2 separate regions of the Homo sapiens genome follow, and region 2 is linked to region 1. A link means that fine-mapping ties the variant in region 1 to the expression of a gene that starts in the linked region. Tissue or cell type: whole blood. Region 1 holds a variant in brackets; the other region holds the start of a gene. All regions are shown on one strand. Distances are between the middles of the regions.

Region 1 (8,177 bases):
CTACTCAGGAGGTTGAGGCAGGAGAATTGCCTGAGCCTGGGAGGTCGAGGCCACAGTGAGCCGCGATCACATGTCACTACATTCCAGCCTGGGTGACAGAGCAAAACCCTGGCTGGAAAAAAAAAAAATTCAAGCAGTCAAGGGGATGGGAGCTTGGTGGACTAGAGATGCCCAGACTTGAGTTCCTGTCCCAGCCCTGCCACTAATAGTGAGATTTTAGGCACAGCTATTCCCCTTCTTCTCTCCTAAGTCTCCGGAGAACAAATGGCTTTGGATTCAATGAGGAAAAGAAGGAAAGAAAGGAAGAAACTGGTCTCACTGAGCATCCTCTATGAGCCGGGCATCACACCAAACCCTCCTCCCTGCCATTTACTCTTTCCACCAGCCTTGAAGGGTTACCGTACTCAGTTTCACAGATGAGTTCAGTGCACATGAACGATCACACAGCAAGCGAATGGCAGGGAGGGGGTTATGATGCAGGGCTGTGGGGCTCCCTAGTAACCTTAATCCCAGCAGTCATTTAATGAGACAGAACTAAGTACACGCCTCTCTAACATACATTGTCTCGCTTAATTCTTGTAGAATCTTTGAGGCAAGCATTACCATTATCTCTACTTCACAGATGAGCAAATGGGTTCTGAGAGGTCAAGTGACCTGCCCAAGGTCACACAGCTATGCATGCACAGCCAGGTGGCAAACCCAGAGCTAAATGATTCCAACGCTCACTGGCTTTGCTCTCCAGTGTCAGCTCAGCAGCCCTGAACCTAAAACTCCAGGTGGCAGGTGCCACCCCAGGGATAAGACCCCAGCTTTAACCTGAACCAAACCTTAACCAGCTGTGTGCTATTGGGCAAATTCCTTAACCTCTATAGGCTTGCATTTCCTCCTCTGCATAGTAGGCATGGCACTCATACCTCCCTGGCAAAAAACTATCAACTTTATTTGTTTATTTATTTATTTATTTATTTATTTATTTATTTATTCATTCATGAGACAGAGTCTCCCTGTGTCGCCCAGAATGGAGGGCAGTGGCCTGATCTCGGCTCACTGCAACCTCCACCTGCCGGATTGATGCGATTCTCCTGCCTCAGCCTCCGGAGTAGCTGAGATTACAGGCGCCCGCCACCACACCTGGCTAATATTTGTATTTTTAGTAGAGATGGAATTTCACCACTTTGGCCAGGCTGGTCTCGAACTCCTGGCCTCAAGTGATTCTCCTGCCTCAGCCTCCCAAAGTGCTGGGATTACAGGTGTGAGCCCCGGCCTTTACCTGCATTTTTCCATTTCTTCCACACAACTGTTATGAGGTAGGCATTACTTTATACATAAAATACATAAAGAACTAAGCCCAGCACTGGCACATATAAGAATGCAATGAATCGTAGCTATTATTACTAATGCTATTGTTTTTACTGCTGCTATATTATTATAACAAATAATCATTGTGATAGTTATTGCAACAGTTGTCATCGCTGTTATTATATTACTAAGTAGTTTTGGATCCCTTTTCTCGAAGTTTCATCGTCCCCCCCCTCCAAGTGCCCTCCAATCCCAGGAGCCCTTAAAGCCGCTGCACCCACACTTTGCCCACCCTCTTTCTCTCGGTCTGTCCCCCACGCCATCCATCACCTGCACCCCTTCCCTAGGGAGGCCCAGCGGTGGGCGCCCACCCGCTCCCCCAGCGCTTTGCCCCGTGAGTCCTCCGCCCAGGCCCCCGCGCGCGCCTCACCTGCGGAGCCCGGCTTGGCCGCACTGAGTCCCACGGGCGGGCGGGTGGCGCAGGGCGGGGCCGCGGGGCTCATGCGGGGAGCGGGCAGGCAGGAGAGCGGCGGGGCGGCGCCAGCCGGCAGCTCTGCGACCTCCTCCCTGCAGCGGCCCAGGTGGGAACTCAGCCAGGGCAGCGGCGGGGGTCACAGTCCCCGCCTGGGACTTCCTATCTGTCGAAGCTTGCAAGACGCACAAATGCCTGCTCCCCAGCCACTCTTCGGGGCGGCAGCTAGGAAGCGAGGATGGGGAGCACTAGAGAGCTATCCACCAATCGCTACATGGGACCTTTATTTAGATCTGAATTCAAACCGTTAAAAGAAGTTATAGGACGGGCACGGTGGCTCACGCCTGTAATCCCAGCACTTTTGGGAAGCCAAGGCGGGCGGATCACTTGAGGCCAGGAGTTCGAGACTAGCCTCGCCAACAGGGCGAAACCCCGGCTCTACTAAAAATACAAAGATTAGCCAGGCGCGGTGGCGGGCGCCTGTAATCCCAACTACTTGGGAGGCTGAGGCAGGAGAATCGCTTGAACCCGGGAGGGGGAGGTTGCAGTGAGCCGAGATCGTGCCATTGCACTCCAGCCTGGGCGACAGAGCAAGACTCCGTCTCAAAAAAAAAAAAAAAAAAAAAAAAATTATAAGAAAATTGGAGCAATGTGGTCGCTGGATATTTAATGGCTGGGTTTCTTTCATTTCTTTTTTCTTTTTTTTTGAGACAGTCTCGCTCTGTCGCCCAGGCTGGAGTGCAATGGCGCGATCTCGGCTCACTGGAACCTCCGCCCCCAGGTTCAAGCGATTCTCCCGCTTCAGCCTCCCAAGTAAAGAGGATTACAAGCGCCCATCACTACGCCCCGCTTATTTTTTTGTATTTTTAGCAGAGGCCGGGTTTCTCCATGTTGGCTAGGCTGGTCTCAAACTCCTGACCTCAGGTGATCCGCCGGCCTCGGCCTCCCAAAGTGCTGGGATTACAGGCGTGAGCCATCGCACCCTGCCGGGTTTCTTAATGAATAATTGTAATGTGGCTATCTTTTCAGAGTGGTTATCTTTTACAGTTATATATTTACAAAACTGAAATGAGACATCTGGGATTTGCTTGGCAATAGTGGAACCAAGGAGTAGTGGGAGTAGGGATGAAACAAGGTGGGCCATGTGTTGATAATTGCTGAGGCTGGTTGGGGAGGATTCATTATTACCTTTCTTTTTTATGTACTTGGAATTTTCCATAATAAAAATAATAGTATGACCTATAATAGATGTATACATACACAGAGTGGTAGAAAAAAATTCATCCTAAATGTCCACCAATAATGAAATGCTTAAATAAATGGATACATAAACGCTGTGGATTACACAGTCATTAAAATTGTTCTTAACAAAGACCACATAATTAGCACAAGGAAATAATTTTATATCCAAAACAAAAAAGCCAATGGTAAGAAATAGATGTATTTGAACTTTTATTGAACCTAGAAGCTAGGGGCTGGGTGTGGAGCCTCACACCTGTAATCCCAGCACTTTGGGAGGCCAAGGCAGGCTGATCACTTGAGGTCAAGAGTTTGAGACCAGCCTGGCCAACATGGTGAAACCTCGTCTCTACTAAAATTACAAAAATTAGCCAGGCATGGTC[G/A]TGGGCACCTGTAATCCCTGTTACTTGGGAGGCTGAGGCAGGAGAATTGCATGAGCTGGGGAGGTGGCAGTTGCAGTGATCTGAGATGGCACCACTGCCCTCCCACCTGGACAACAGAGCAAGACTCCATCTCAAAAACAAAGCAAAACAAAACAAAAAACTAGAAGGCAAGGCTGGGTGGGGTGGCTCAGACCTCTAATTCCAACACTTTGGGAGGCTGAGGTGGGTGGATCACTTGAGGTCAAGAGTTTGAGACCAGCCTGGCCAACAGGGCAAAACCCCATCTCTACTAAAAATACAAAAATGAGCTTGCATGGTGGCGCACGTCCTGTAATCCCAGCTACTCAGGAGGCTAAGGTAGGAGAATCCCTTGAACCCGAGAGGCAGAGGCTGCAGTGAGCTGAGATCATGCCACTGCACTCCAGCCTGGGCAAGAGAATGAGACTCTGCCTCAAAAAAAAAAATTAAAAAAAATCTGGTAGGCAATGCATTAAAATATTAGCTTTGCATGATAGGATTATGCATAACTGTTTTGCATCTTTCCTAATGAAAATAGTTGTGGACTCAAGAAGTTTCCTTGCAATCCTTCACATTTAACGAAACACATCTAATACCCGTAATATTTCAAAGTAATCATTGAAATGCCCAACGCTAACATTAGTTTGTCAGTGGCACAATTAAAACATTATCTTCAGAAATGACCAATTGCAGCATTCTGCTGCCCATCTGATAGTAATTTATATAATGCTAATGTCCAGCATCCTCAAAAACATCCTTTTATCCCCAGGGTCTTTGTTTAATCCTTTAAATAAAAAGCTTAACCTCAGCCGGGCACAGTGGCTCATGCTTGCAATCCCAGCACTTTGGGAGGCTGAGACGGGCAGATCACAAGGTTAGGAGATCGAGACCATCTGGCTAATACAGTGAAACCCCGTCTCTACTAAAAATACAAAAAATTAGCCAGGCGTGGTGACGGGCGCCTGTAGTCCCAGCTACTCAGAAGGCTGAGGCAGGAGAATGGTATGAACCCGGGAGGCAGAGCTTGCAGTGAGCCAAGATCATGCCACCACTCCAGCCTGGGTGACACAGTGAGACTCTTTCTCAAAAAAAAAAAAAAAAAAAAAAAAGCTTAACCTCAAGCTTTAAATGACAGGAAATGGCTTCCATCCTTTGTCAATTTTTGATTTAGAATATAGGTGTCTAGGAGTCTCACATGACTCATCTCAGAACAATAAAAGGACCTTTTCATTTTTACATATTTTAATGTTTAAACATTTATAAATGTGTGTATATATACATGCACAGAAAAAAAAAAGTCTGGAAGGCATAAACCAAACTGTCAGTAGTGGTTCTCTCAAGTTTATGGGGTAAGTAAAGTTAATTTTCATTTTATACTTTTTCTGCGATGAACGTTGATATGGTTTGGCTTTGTGTCCCCACCCAAATCTTGTGTGGAATTGTAATCCCAGTGTTGGGGGAGGGGTCTGGTGGGAGGTGATTGGATCATGGGGCTGACTTCCCCCTCAATACTGCTTTCGTGATAGTGAGTGAGTGCTCAGTTGTTTAAAAGTGTGTGGTACCTTCTCCTTGGTTCTCTCTTAGTTCTCCTTCCACCATGTAAGACATGCAGGCTTCCCCTTCACTTTCCACCATGATTGTAAGTTTCCTGAGGCCTCCCTAGAAGCAGAAGCCTATACAGCCTGCAGAACCATGAGCCAATTAAACCTCTTTTCTTTATAAATTACCCAGTCTTAAGTGTGTTTTTATAGCAGTGTGAGAAAGGACTAATACAAACGTGTTACTTATAATGGAAAAACCAGTAGGGCTTTACGATCAGTCATGGCCACCCTATAAATAATAAAAACAAGATGGAGGCTGGGCGAGGTGGCTCACACCTATAATCCCAGCACTTTGGGAGGCTGAGGCGGGTGGATGACCTGAGGTCAAGAGTCTGAGACCAGCCTGACCAACATGGCAAAACCCCATCTCTACTAAAAATAGAAAAATTAGCAGGGCATAGTGGCACATGCCTATAATCCCAGCTACTTGAGAGGTTGAGGCAGGAGAATCACTTGAACCTGGGAGGTGGAGGTTGCAGTGAGCCAAGATTGCACCACTGCACTCCAGCCTGGGCGACAGAGGAAGGCTCCAACTCAAAAAAAAAAAAAAAAAAAAAAAGAATTGCCAATGTATTCACTTGAACTCTAGCATTTGGAAAAGTGTTGAGAGTTCACAGTCGTTTAAAACCAGCGTTCTGTGTTGAATCCTAAACAGGATATAAGAAAATAGCATTTGGGCACTCTATCTGTTCTTATTTTCCAGAACTTAAGAAGTACAGGTATATAAGACATCCCAATTTACATGGGCATTTACTTGAGAGAAAAAATACTTACTTTTCATTTTACATGTATTGAAAGTAATTTTAAAGTGACTTTCTAACAAAAGCATATTATTTAATTCATGTGAATACAGCATACTGACCCAAATCCAGAGGGAATTCTTAAGTTCGGTTATGTAATAATATTCTCCCTGTTCTCCAAAAGTATACAATTTCACAGTGAAAAAGAAGTATTTTGTTATCACTGAATACTGAGTCCAATTCAGTGATACTGATATAGATAGCAAGCTACAAAGCACAATTTACTAGTAAATGAAGCCAAATGCCATACAAGTTGTATTATAAAAACAAATGATGCACTAGTCATTAGGGAAATGCAAATCAAAACCACAAGCTACCACCTTACACCGATTAGGATGGCTACTACTAAAAAAACAAAACAGGCTGGACATGGTGGCTCACACCTGTAATCCCAGCACTTTGGGAGGCCAAGGCAGGCAGATCACCTGAGGTCAGGAGTTCGAGACCAGCCTGGCCAACATGGCGAAACCCCAAAACCCCATCTCCACCAAAAATATAAAAATTAGCCAAGTGTAATGGTAGGTGCCTGTAATCCCAGCTACTCGGGAGGCTGAGGCAGGAGAATCACTTGAACCCAAGAGATGGAGTTTGCAGTGAGCCGAGATCATGCCCTGCGCTCCAGCCTGGGCAACAGAGCAAGACTCCATCCCAAAACAAAACAAGATAATGTTGGTGAAGATGTGGAGACATTGGAACGGTTGTGAACTGTTGGCAAAAATGTTAAATGGTGCAGAAAACAGCATTGTGGTTCCTCAAATAATTAAAAATAGAATTACCACATGATCCAGTAATTTCACTTCTGGTTATATACCCAAAGGAATTAAAAGCAGGGTCACAAGATACTTGTATACTCATGTTCACAGCAGGGTTATTCAGACAGCTAAAAGGTAGTAGCAATCCAAGAGTTCACCAACAGACTAATGGATAAGCAAACTATGGTCTATCCATACAATAGATTATTCAGCCTTAAAAAGGAAGGAAATTCTGGCCGGTGCGGTGGCTCACGCCTATAATCCCAGCACTTTGGGAAGCCGAGGCAGGTAGATCACCTGAGGTCAGGAGTTTTGAGACCAGCCTGGCCAACATGGTGTAACCGTCTCTACTAAAAATACAAAAATTAGCCAAGCATGGTGGCAGGCGCCTGTAATCTCAGCTACTCAGGAGGCTGAGGCAGGAGAATGGCTTGAACCCAGCAGCCAGAGGCTGCAGTGAGCCGAGATCACACCACTGAACTCCAGCCTGGGGGACAGAAAGAGACTCCGTCTCAAAAAAAAAAAAAAAAAAAAAAAAGAGAGGAAGGAAACTCTGACACCCTCTACATCGGTGAACCCTGAGGGCACTGTGCTAAGTGAAATAAGCCAGTCATGGGCCGGGCGCGGTGGCTCACGCCTGTAATCCTGGCACTTTAGGAGGCCGGATCACAAGGCCAGGAGTTCGAGACCAATCTGGCCAACATGGCGAAACCCCATCTCTACTAAAAATACAAAATTAGCCAGGAGTGGTGGTGCACGCCTGTAATCCTAGCTACTCAGGAGGCTAAGGCAGGATTGATTGAACCCAGGAGGCAAAGGTTGAAGTGAGCTGAGATTGCATCACTGCACTCCAGCCTGGGCAACAGAGTGAGACTCTGTCTCAGGAAAAAAAAAAAAAGAAGAATAAGCCGGTCACAAAAAGGCAAATACTGTGTAATTCCAATTATATGGGAGGTGACTGGATCATGGGGCGGATCATGACTACCTAGAGTAGTCAAAGGGACAGAAAGTAGAATGATAGTTGCTAGAGGGTGGGGTGGAGACAATGGAGAGTTGTGTTTATGAACATAGTTTCAGTTTTGCAAGATAAAGGGAGTGCTAGGCCAGGGACAGTGGCTAACACCTGCAGTCCCAACACTTTGGGAGGCCAAGGTAGAAGGATCACTTGAGGCCAGGAGTTTAAGACCAGCCTAGGCAACATAGTCCTGATTTGTCTCAAGTTACTTATGAGCCCAGTTTTGTGCTCAGTGCACTCCTAGACAGTACAACTCAGTCCAGGCTGCCCTGATTCCATGCACTATCTTCTAGCCGGCGGAAGCACTGGATATAAGGTAACTGGGGGTGCTTAAGCATCTGCACTAACATGGTAGGTCACTTTAGTCACTGGAAGCCCATGATACTATACTGACATTGCTGGAGAAAAAGGATCATGTAACACCTCCATCAGTAACCAAGTAGTGGGAAGCAATTAATGAAAACATCTTGCTTCATTAATACTGTAAATAACATACGCAGTATAGCCTATTAATACTATACTCAGAACCAAGTGAAAACAAAGCTTTGCTCAGGAAGACTTGAAACATCTACACTTTATTTTCCAACTCAACTTTTTT
Region 2 (8,177 bases), 63 kb after region 1:
GGAAGATCACTTGAGGCCAGGAGTTCAAGACCAGCCTGGCCAACATGGTGAAGCCCTGTCTCTACTAAAACTACAAAAATTAACCAGGTGTGCTGGCACGTGCCTGTAATCCCAGCTATGGAGAGGCTGAGGCATGAGAACCGCTTGAACCCAGGAGGTCGAGGATGCAGTGAGCTGAGATTGTGCCACTACACTCCAGCCTGGGTGACACAGTGAGACCCTGTCTCCAAAAAAAAAAAAAAGCTGTTTGTTAAGGAAGCTGGGAATTTCTCTTGGAAAAAGTCTTTATTCTGTAAGAAGCCACGTAGTAAATGTTTTAGGCTTGCAGGCCATACAGTAGCAAATATGCTGCTATTGTAGCCAGGGAGCTCATAGACCACAGGTAAATGAATGTGGTAGTTCTCTTTCAATAAAACTTTATTTGTGGGCTGGGTGTAGTACCTCACGCCTGTAATCCCAGCACTTTGGGAGGCCCAGGAAGAAGGATCACTTGAGGTCAGGAGTTTGAGACCAGCCTAACCAACATAGTGAAACCCCATCTCTACTGAAAACTACAAAAATTATCTGGGCGTGGTGGTGTTCACCTGTAATCCCAGCTACTCGGGAGGCTGAGACATCAGAATTGCTTGAACCTGGGAGGCAGAGGTTGCAGTGAACCAAAATTGGGCCACTGCGCTCCAGCCTGGGTGACGAAGCGAGACTCCATCTCAAAAAAAAAACACTTTATTTGTAGACACTGAAATAAATTTGAATTCCATAAATGAAACTTCATGTATTACAAAATGTTATTTTGATATTTTCTTGGTAACCATTTAAAAATATAAAACTATTCTTATTTCATAGGCTGTAAAATAAGTCTGTGAGACCAGTCTGGCCTCCCAGCCACTTCCCTGCTCTAAGTGAAACCCTGCTTCTTGCTTGCCCAAAGTGAAACATAATCCCAGTTTTGAAGCTAGCACACCAAACCAAGTTACTAAAATGGCACTGCTACTACAGTTTTAGAGCAGCTTTAGCCCAAAGGAGCCTTGCCTCTCCAAACTATACTAACAAAATAGCCATTTTTAACGAATAAACATTGCCCAAGATCTCTCTTTTAACCACAGAATCCTCCATCATAATTCCTTAATAAAATAACCAGAAGGAACACTTTTGCTAAGTATGGTTCAATCAAATCCACAACCCTACTTTTATGCAACTCCAAAAGGCCCAGATGTGGCTGGCTATGGAACTCACACACCCAACTGAACACTTAGAAGACCTTGTATAAAACTATTAATCTGAAGGAGGAAAAACAGTTACAGTTACTTCACAAGCAACGAAGTTATAAGGCAAACCCAGGATCCTGGAATATTAAGTGGAAAACAAATTATCAACTCCAGCCACAGTGCAGAAAGGACAGTTTCCTACTTTATCTCATGGTGGTTTCTACACACCTTTCTTCTGTTCCTTTTAATCTTTATTCATGCACGATTATTTTCATAATATGAATGTATTCATGTCAAAATAATGTCTGGATTCATTATTCTAAGGAAAAGAGTTGACCCATCCCCCAAATATTCAGAAAACACCATATTAAGTCTTCACCCTAAAGAAATTATCTGCTGAATTGTTAGTGAAGGGGTACACACACACACACACACACACACACACACACAGAATATAAATACGGTATCTGAAATAAACGTATCTGAAACCAGTATTAGTTTTCATTAGAACTTAACAGATTCAGCTTTTAAAAGGTACAGTCAGAAAGTATCCTCTGCTGGGAGATATTCTGAGGCTATGTCTACAGCTGCAATTCCGCCTCCATACACATCACAGTGTTGAAATAGTGTTTCAATTTTAAAATAAGTGCAATTCTTTTATGAGCACTAAAAACCTACCAAGTGGCTGCAGTAGGGGTAATCATGATAAGTGTTATAAATACCAATAGCTAAGAGACTCAACCATAATCCCCCATCAATGGAGATAAATCGCTTTTTCTCCTATCCAGGACCTTATTTCTATCAACTGCTTAAAAATGTTAAAAATGACATTTCTAATTCATTGTCTACCCCATTGTTCCATATGTGACATTCTGGTAACTGTACAGTCAACGGTACAGTACCTTTGAGTTGTCTCTATAAGAATGAACTAGTGTAAGCAAATAATCCATAGGAATAAATGTGGTTTTGCAATTTAAGTTTACATACATTCCTAACCATATCATACAAGTGATCAATGATACTGATATTGCACCTAACAAACTGCAATGGCTGGAGGCTTTCAAAAAAATTTACAGAAATTTAGGATTCCTTTAACAATAGAAAAAAGCCCAATATACATATTACTAAAGACTAAATGCTACTTTTCTAAATTGCTCTATCTCCTTCTTAGACAATTCTCTACCCTCATTAAAACACATGAAATCAACCTGGGTGTAAATTCTCTGAACACCTGGCATAATAAAAAAGTAATGTAGGAAAATGAGAAATATATGAAAATGATGAGACACAAGATGATATAGGGAATAATTAATACTCTATGGAAAAGCAAAATGTATTATAAATGCTAGCTATGACAAGCCAACACTCTGGCAGAGTTCAAAAGCCTCTTTTCAATGAATTTAACATTAACTGCAAACTATGTTAAGGTCATATACGAAATATCTCACTTAATTCTACAGTTAACCTGTACACGTTTAAGTGGCGCAAGACTGAGCTAATGAAAAGCCTACCTACCCGGTCACAGCGTAACGCTCACGATGCATAACTAAAACTCCCTCCCGTCCCGTTCTGTTTTAAAAACCCTTCCTGTAAAACTTGCATAATCTTCCTCCTCATCACACACAATCTTTCTAGCAGGCTGACTAAATCCAAGTTTAAAGGAGATCTCTGCTAGGTAGGAGGGGAAGGTTCCGTAGGATGGGAGCGACAACCTGTCAAACCCATTTTTTAAGTGCTTAGGGAGAAATGTCACCCCAATCAGCCTGGAGAGTTCAATGGCTTGCGATGTACAGTTACATTTCTTCACGACCCTTTGTACGTTCTGGGATTCAACGAGACAACAAGAGGGGCTGGCTTTTCGTTTTGTTTCTCGGGGTAATGGATCTGGCCGGGTCTCTTCAGTCTCAGGCCTCGGTGCCAGGCGGGCGCCCCCAGCCACGCTCTGGCCCCAAAGTTCCCCAGTCCCGCTGCCGGGCGTCCGCAGTCACCGCCCGGGACCCAGGAACAATGCGGGGCTCCGGGCCGCTCACGATCGGGCCCGGGAGGCCATGCCCCGCCTGCGCTGCGGAACAAAAGGCGCTCGCGGGGCCGCGGCCGGGTGCCCGGGGCTCGCGGAGTCGACGCCCGGCGGGGAAGGCGCGGGGAAAACTTTCCAAGGGGCCGAGGCGGAGGGGCGAGGGCCGGGCCGCCCCCTCGCGGAGCCGTCCCGCACAATAGCCGGGCCCAGCGCGGGAAGGCCGGGCCGCCACGCCCCCGCCCCGGCCCCGGCCCCAGCCCGTACCTGGTGGTTCTCCTTCCTGCCGCCCGCGGCCGCCGCCGGCCCACCCGGGCCGCTAGTCATGTTCACGTACAGGGAGCGGGTGAGCGGGCTCCGCAGCGTCCACATCCTCCGCGCCAGCCACACGGACGCCAGGCTCAGGCACAGCCAGCCCGCCAGCAGTCTCATCGGGGGCCGCGGCCGCTCGCTCGGATCACCGCCGGCGCCGGGGCGAGGAGGAGGAGGCACCGCCGCCTCCGGCCACCGCCGCCACCGCCCGAGCTCGAGCCATCGCGGCCGCCTTGCCCATCCAGCCCCCTTCAGGGCAAAGGCTGGGGGTGGGGAGGAGCAGCCGGCGCGCAGCCTCGGCACCTCCCCCTTCCCTTCCGGCCGCGGAACGCCGCTGCCCCCTGCACCAGTTTCCATCCGGAGCACTTACGAGCGGCCGCGTCGCTTTCTCCCCCGGCGCCCTCCCTCCGTCCAATGAGCGGGCCGCTGGGAGGCGGGACAAAGGGAGCGCGCATCCGCCCGGAGCGCGTTCTCGTGTCCCGGCCCTGCCTTGGCCTCTAGTAAATGGCGGAGGTGGTTTTAATTTTTTTGAGGGCTGAGGAGATCACTTCCGAAGGCGGTAACTGCAGCCTCCCTGCCCCTCCAAGGTGGTGCTGGAAGGACCTCCAGTCTTTCCTCGCCTCATCCCACTCCACGGCGGGACTTTGACAGGGTTACCTCTCGACCCTCATCCCACTCCACGGCGGGACTTTGACAGGGTCGTGCAGTTAACCCCGGGGGCGCAAAGAGGGGAGTCATTCCTTTCGTGCATCCTGACACACACAGGTTCTTCCCGGAGACGAATGGTGCCAGTGATGGTTGCCCGCTCGGATGCGTAGTTTCCAGTTTACATTTAGAACCGACCTGCCAGACTCCCTCCTCTACTCTCCCCACCACCACGACCCGCCTGCCCCGTTCCCCAAGCCTGAGAAGTTGCTGGCTACGTGTTTCTATAAAGAATGAGTGAAAATTCTGCCTTTTGGGGAAGCTACCGCAGCTGGGGTACCCACAAGTAATGTTTTAGATGTATTGATGGCCCTGCCCAAGAATGAAGACCTCAAGTTAGACTCCTTGGCTGCCTTGTTTCCTTGAATTAGCACAGGGAAGTTGGACCCAACACTCTTAAGAGTGAACTCAGCTCTGGGAGCAGTGTTTAACCCGGATATTTATTTGATCATTTATAACACGAGGAGACCTAGCAACATTTCAGAACTGAAGGGTTAGTTACACTGTGTTCCTGTCTGCAGTTCTTCCTGCTATTATCCAAGCCACAATTAAGGAGTAACATTTCGTGGGAGTCCCTAACTTTAATACTTTCCTAGGTTTGTTTGGAAAGTGCTTTTAATTTAACTGCACCAGAAATAATGTAAATGTGTCTAAGTTCAAAACAAAAGAAGTAAGCCTTTTGGTTAATTCAGCGTTGCACATCAGAGATTTTCATTTATGAAACAGTGGGGTGGTGAGCCACAGATGGGGAACAAAATCATTCCTTACCCAACAGCTTTTTTTTTTTTTTTTTTTTGAAACGGAGTGGAGTCTCGCTCTGTCTCCAGGCTGGAGTGCAGTGGCTCGATCTCGGCTCACTTCAAACTCCGCCTCCCGGGTTCAAGCAATTCTTCTGCCTCAGCCTCCCGAGCAGCTGGGACTACGGGTGCGCGCCACCATGCCCAGCTAATTTTTGTGTTTTTCGTAGAGACGGGATTTCACCATGTTGGCCAGGATGGTCTCCATCTCTTGACCTCGTGATCCGCCTGCCTCGGCCTCCCAAAGTGCTGGGATTACAGGCGTGAGCCACCGCACCTGGCCCAACAGCTCTTTCATTAGCTTTTAAGAATCTCAGCTTGGCACCTTTGGCTAACAAGGATATCTTGTTGCCTAATGTAACAGGCTGTAACAACAAACAAAAAGGCACAGGGTGGGTGGGGTTCGGTATTTTGTGTTCTCTCTTTCCAATATACTCCCTGACTGCTTCCTGCCAAAACCCCGAAAAGCCCAAGCCTTACTAAATCTAGTTCAAACCTCTAGTGGTCCTGGCCCAAGTCATCAAAAAGGAACTATGGTAGCAAGTCCAATAACTGTTTATTTACTATGACACCTCTCCTTCCTGTCTCTTAGGATCAGTGTAACAGACAAAGCAACTCTGTCACAAAAGGAAGCCTTCATCTTTTTAAAGTGGGGGTGAAAGCAGCAGGAGTGCATAAAATGGCATATTTCCTTTCTGAAGACAAAGGAGACAAAAAGGTATGCCCCAGCTATAGAGTGAGACCACATAGCTGTAGCTGAGAGACTGCAAAATGTTATCAGATGAACAAGCAAGTAGATGGCTGCTGTAGTCAGAAGGATTTTGGGGTCAGTTGACTGCCACGAAGCCTAACAGCTCAAAGGAGCAGATTTTGTTTTATATCTGAGCAGCTGGCCTAGAAAAATAAATCACTCATACATTTAAAATACTCTATAATAACCACCAAACACTCAAACCCATGCTATTTACATTTAGCAGGCACAGGAAGAAACCAGAGCATCCGATGATCAAATGATTTGCCTGAAGGTAGCAGAGTAAATTCAATAGCTGACCTTTTCATAGAACTTGGTATCCCAGCTCGTGGTCTTTCGATCCATCTAAGAAGCTTTGCTGTCTCTTCTCAGAGAGCCTCCTGAATTACAAATGAGGAGAAACGAAAACAGCAAGAGTAAATATACGAAGCAGAAGTTCAGATTGCCCACTGGGGACAGCCCCCTTCCTTCATCTACTAGAATGTCACTACCGTATATTAAAACCTCAATTCTCCATAATGGAGACGGGAAGGGGCAAGATGACACAAAAAGCCAAATAGCCAATACTCGTTCTAACATGATCTTGAGATGCAGTTAGTAATATTCAAAAGATACACAAATGACCCTCTGCACCGAACTCTGCTCATTGACCCCAGGTGTCCCACTTGGGTCACAGCCCTGTACACAGGCCCAAAATTTTGGCGGGATCACTTTCCTATCTAGATCTCTAGGCAAAGGCTTTTTGTTATTGTTGTTCTTTGAAGTTACAAAGCTTGGCATTTTCATATTCTCTTTTCAATTACAAAGTATCATGTTAAGAGAATCCACAAGCAGAGAGTTTGGATCTGTACAAAACCTATTGATGATTGTTATCTCCTTGAAGAGATAATGATTTAAAAAGAACTCATATAGACCAGGCAGGGTGGCTCATGCTTGTAATCCCAGCACTTTGGGAAGCCAAGGCAGGTGGATGGCTTGAGCCCAGGAGTTCAAGGCCAGCCTGGGCAACATGGAGAAACCCCGTGTCTACAAAAAATACAAAAATAAGACAGGCGTGGTGACATGCACCTGTAGACCCATCTACTCAGGAGGCTGAGGTGGGAGGATCACCTGAGCCTGGGAGGCTGAGGCTGCAGTGAACTGAGATTGTGCCACTGCACTCCAGCTTGGGTGACCCTGTATCAAAAAATAAAAATAAAAATAACTCATATAATCACTTTTTTTTTCCCGAGATGGAGTCTTGCTCTGTTGCCCAGGCTGGAGTGCAGTGGCACGATCTCGGCTTGCTGCAACCTCTGCCTCTCGGGTTCAAGCAATTCTCCTGCCTCAGCCTCCTGAGTAGCTGGGATTATAGGCACCTGCCACCACGCCTGGCTATTTTTTGTATTTTTAGTAGAGATGGGGTTTCACCATGTTGGCCAGGCTGGTCTCAAACTCCTGACCTCGTGATCCGCCTGCTGCAGCCTCCCAAAGTGCTAGGATTACAGGCGTGAGCCACTGCACCTGGCCATAATCATGTTTTTATGGACAGATATTTTTTATGCTTCTTAATATTGTTTTGTATACCTTCAGAGAAAGATACAGCTTTTTCCCAGTATATTCAATAGAATGTGTCCTGTAGTTATTAAGCAATGAGCACCTCTAACAAAATTAGCAAATGTACTCAACAATTTGTTTAATTAATTAACGTAGGAGATCTTTATCTGAATTTAGTTGATACAACTTCAATCCTGTGCAATGATATCACTGTGGGCTCCAGTTGATGAATTCTAAGTCAAGGCAAAACTGCAGACAGCTTTGAAAAAAAAAAAATTAGTAGCCTAGGCCAGGCACCATGGCTCATGCTTGTAATCCCAGCTACTCAGGAGGCTGACACAGGAGAATCGCTTGAACCCAGGAGGCAGAGGCCGCAGTGAGCTGAGATCATGCCACTGTACTCCAGGCTGGGCAACACAGTGAAACTCCATCTCAAAAAAAAAAAAAAAAAAAAAAGCCTCAAGTAGCAGAATTGAACCAGGGGTTAGAAGATGTTAGTAGTTGGCCAGGTGCGGTGGCTCACACCTGTAATCCCAGCACTTTGGGAGATTGAGGTGGGTGGATCACAAGGTCAGGAGTTTGAGACCAGCCTGGCCAACATGGTGAAACCCGGTCTCTACTAAAAATACAAAAAAAATTAGCCAGGGGTGATGGCCTGCACCTGCAATCCCAGCTGCTCATGAGGCTGATGCAGGAGAATTGCTTGAACCTGAGAGGTGGAAGTTGCAGTGAGCTGAGATCACACCACTGCACTCCAGCCTGGGTGACAGAGTGAGACTCCATCTCAAAAAAAAGAAGACGTTAGTAGCAAATACAAGTAACATCGTGTGCTTCATTGGAGAACTCCCAGTGCTACT

Evidence for each region. PIP is the estimated chance that this variant, and not a neighbour inherited with it, causes the effect.
Region 2: METTL9 starts here. The variant in region 1 is fine-mapped to the expression of METTL9 in whole blood (INTERVAL, PIP above 0.99).

The regions. Positions count from the first base shown.
Region 1 is chr16:21,657,785-21,665,961 of GRCh38, reverse strand. It overlaps OTOA (otoancorin), which reads right to left and starts at 1,994. Exons shown (of 29, transcript NM_144672.4): 1 at 1,730-1,994. RefSeq lists an enhancer at 7,586-7,725. The variant G/A (reference allele first, on the strand shown) is at 3,394.
Region 2 is chr16:21,595,208-21,603,384 of GRCh38, reverse strand. METTL9 (methyltransferase 9, His-X-His N1(pi)-histidine) reads right to left here and starts at 3,808. Exons shown (of 5, transcript NM_016025.5): 1 at 3,487-3,808. The coding sequence starts at 3,651. LOC101927814 (a long non-coding RNA gene) reads left to right here and starts at 4,000. Exons shown (of 3, transcript NR_110930.1): 1 at 4,000-4,729; 2 at 5,626-5,751. RefSeq lists an enhancer at 2,529-3,093 and a silencer at 3,202-3,821.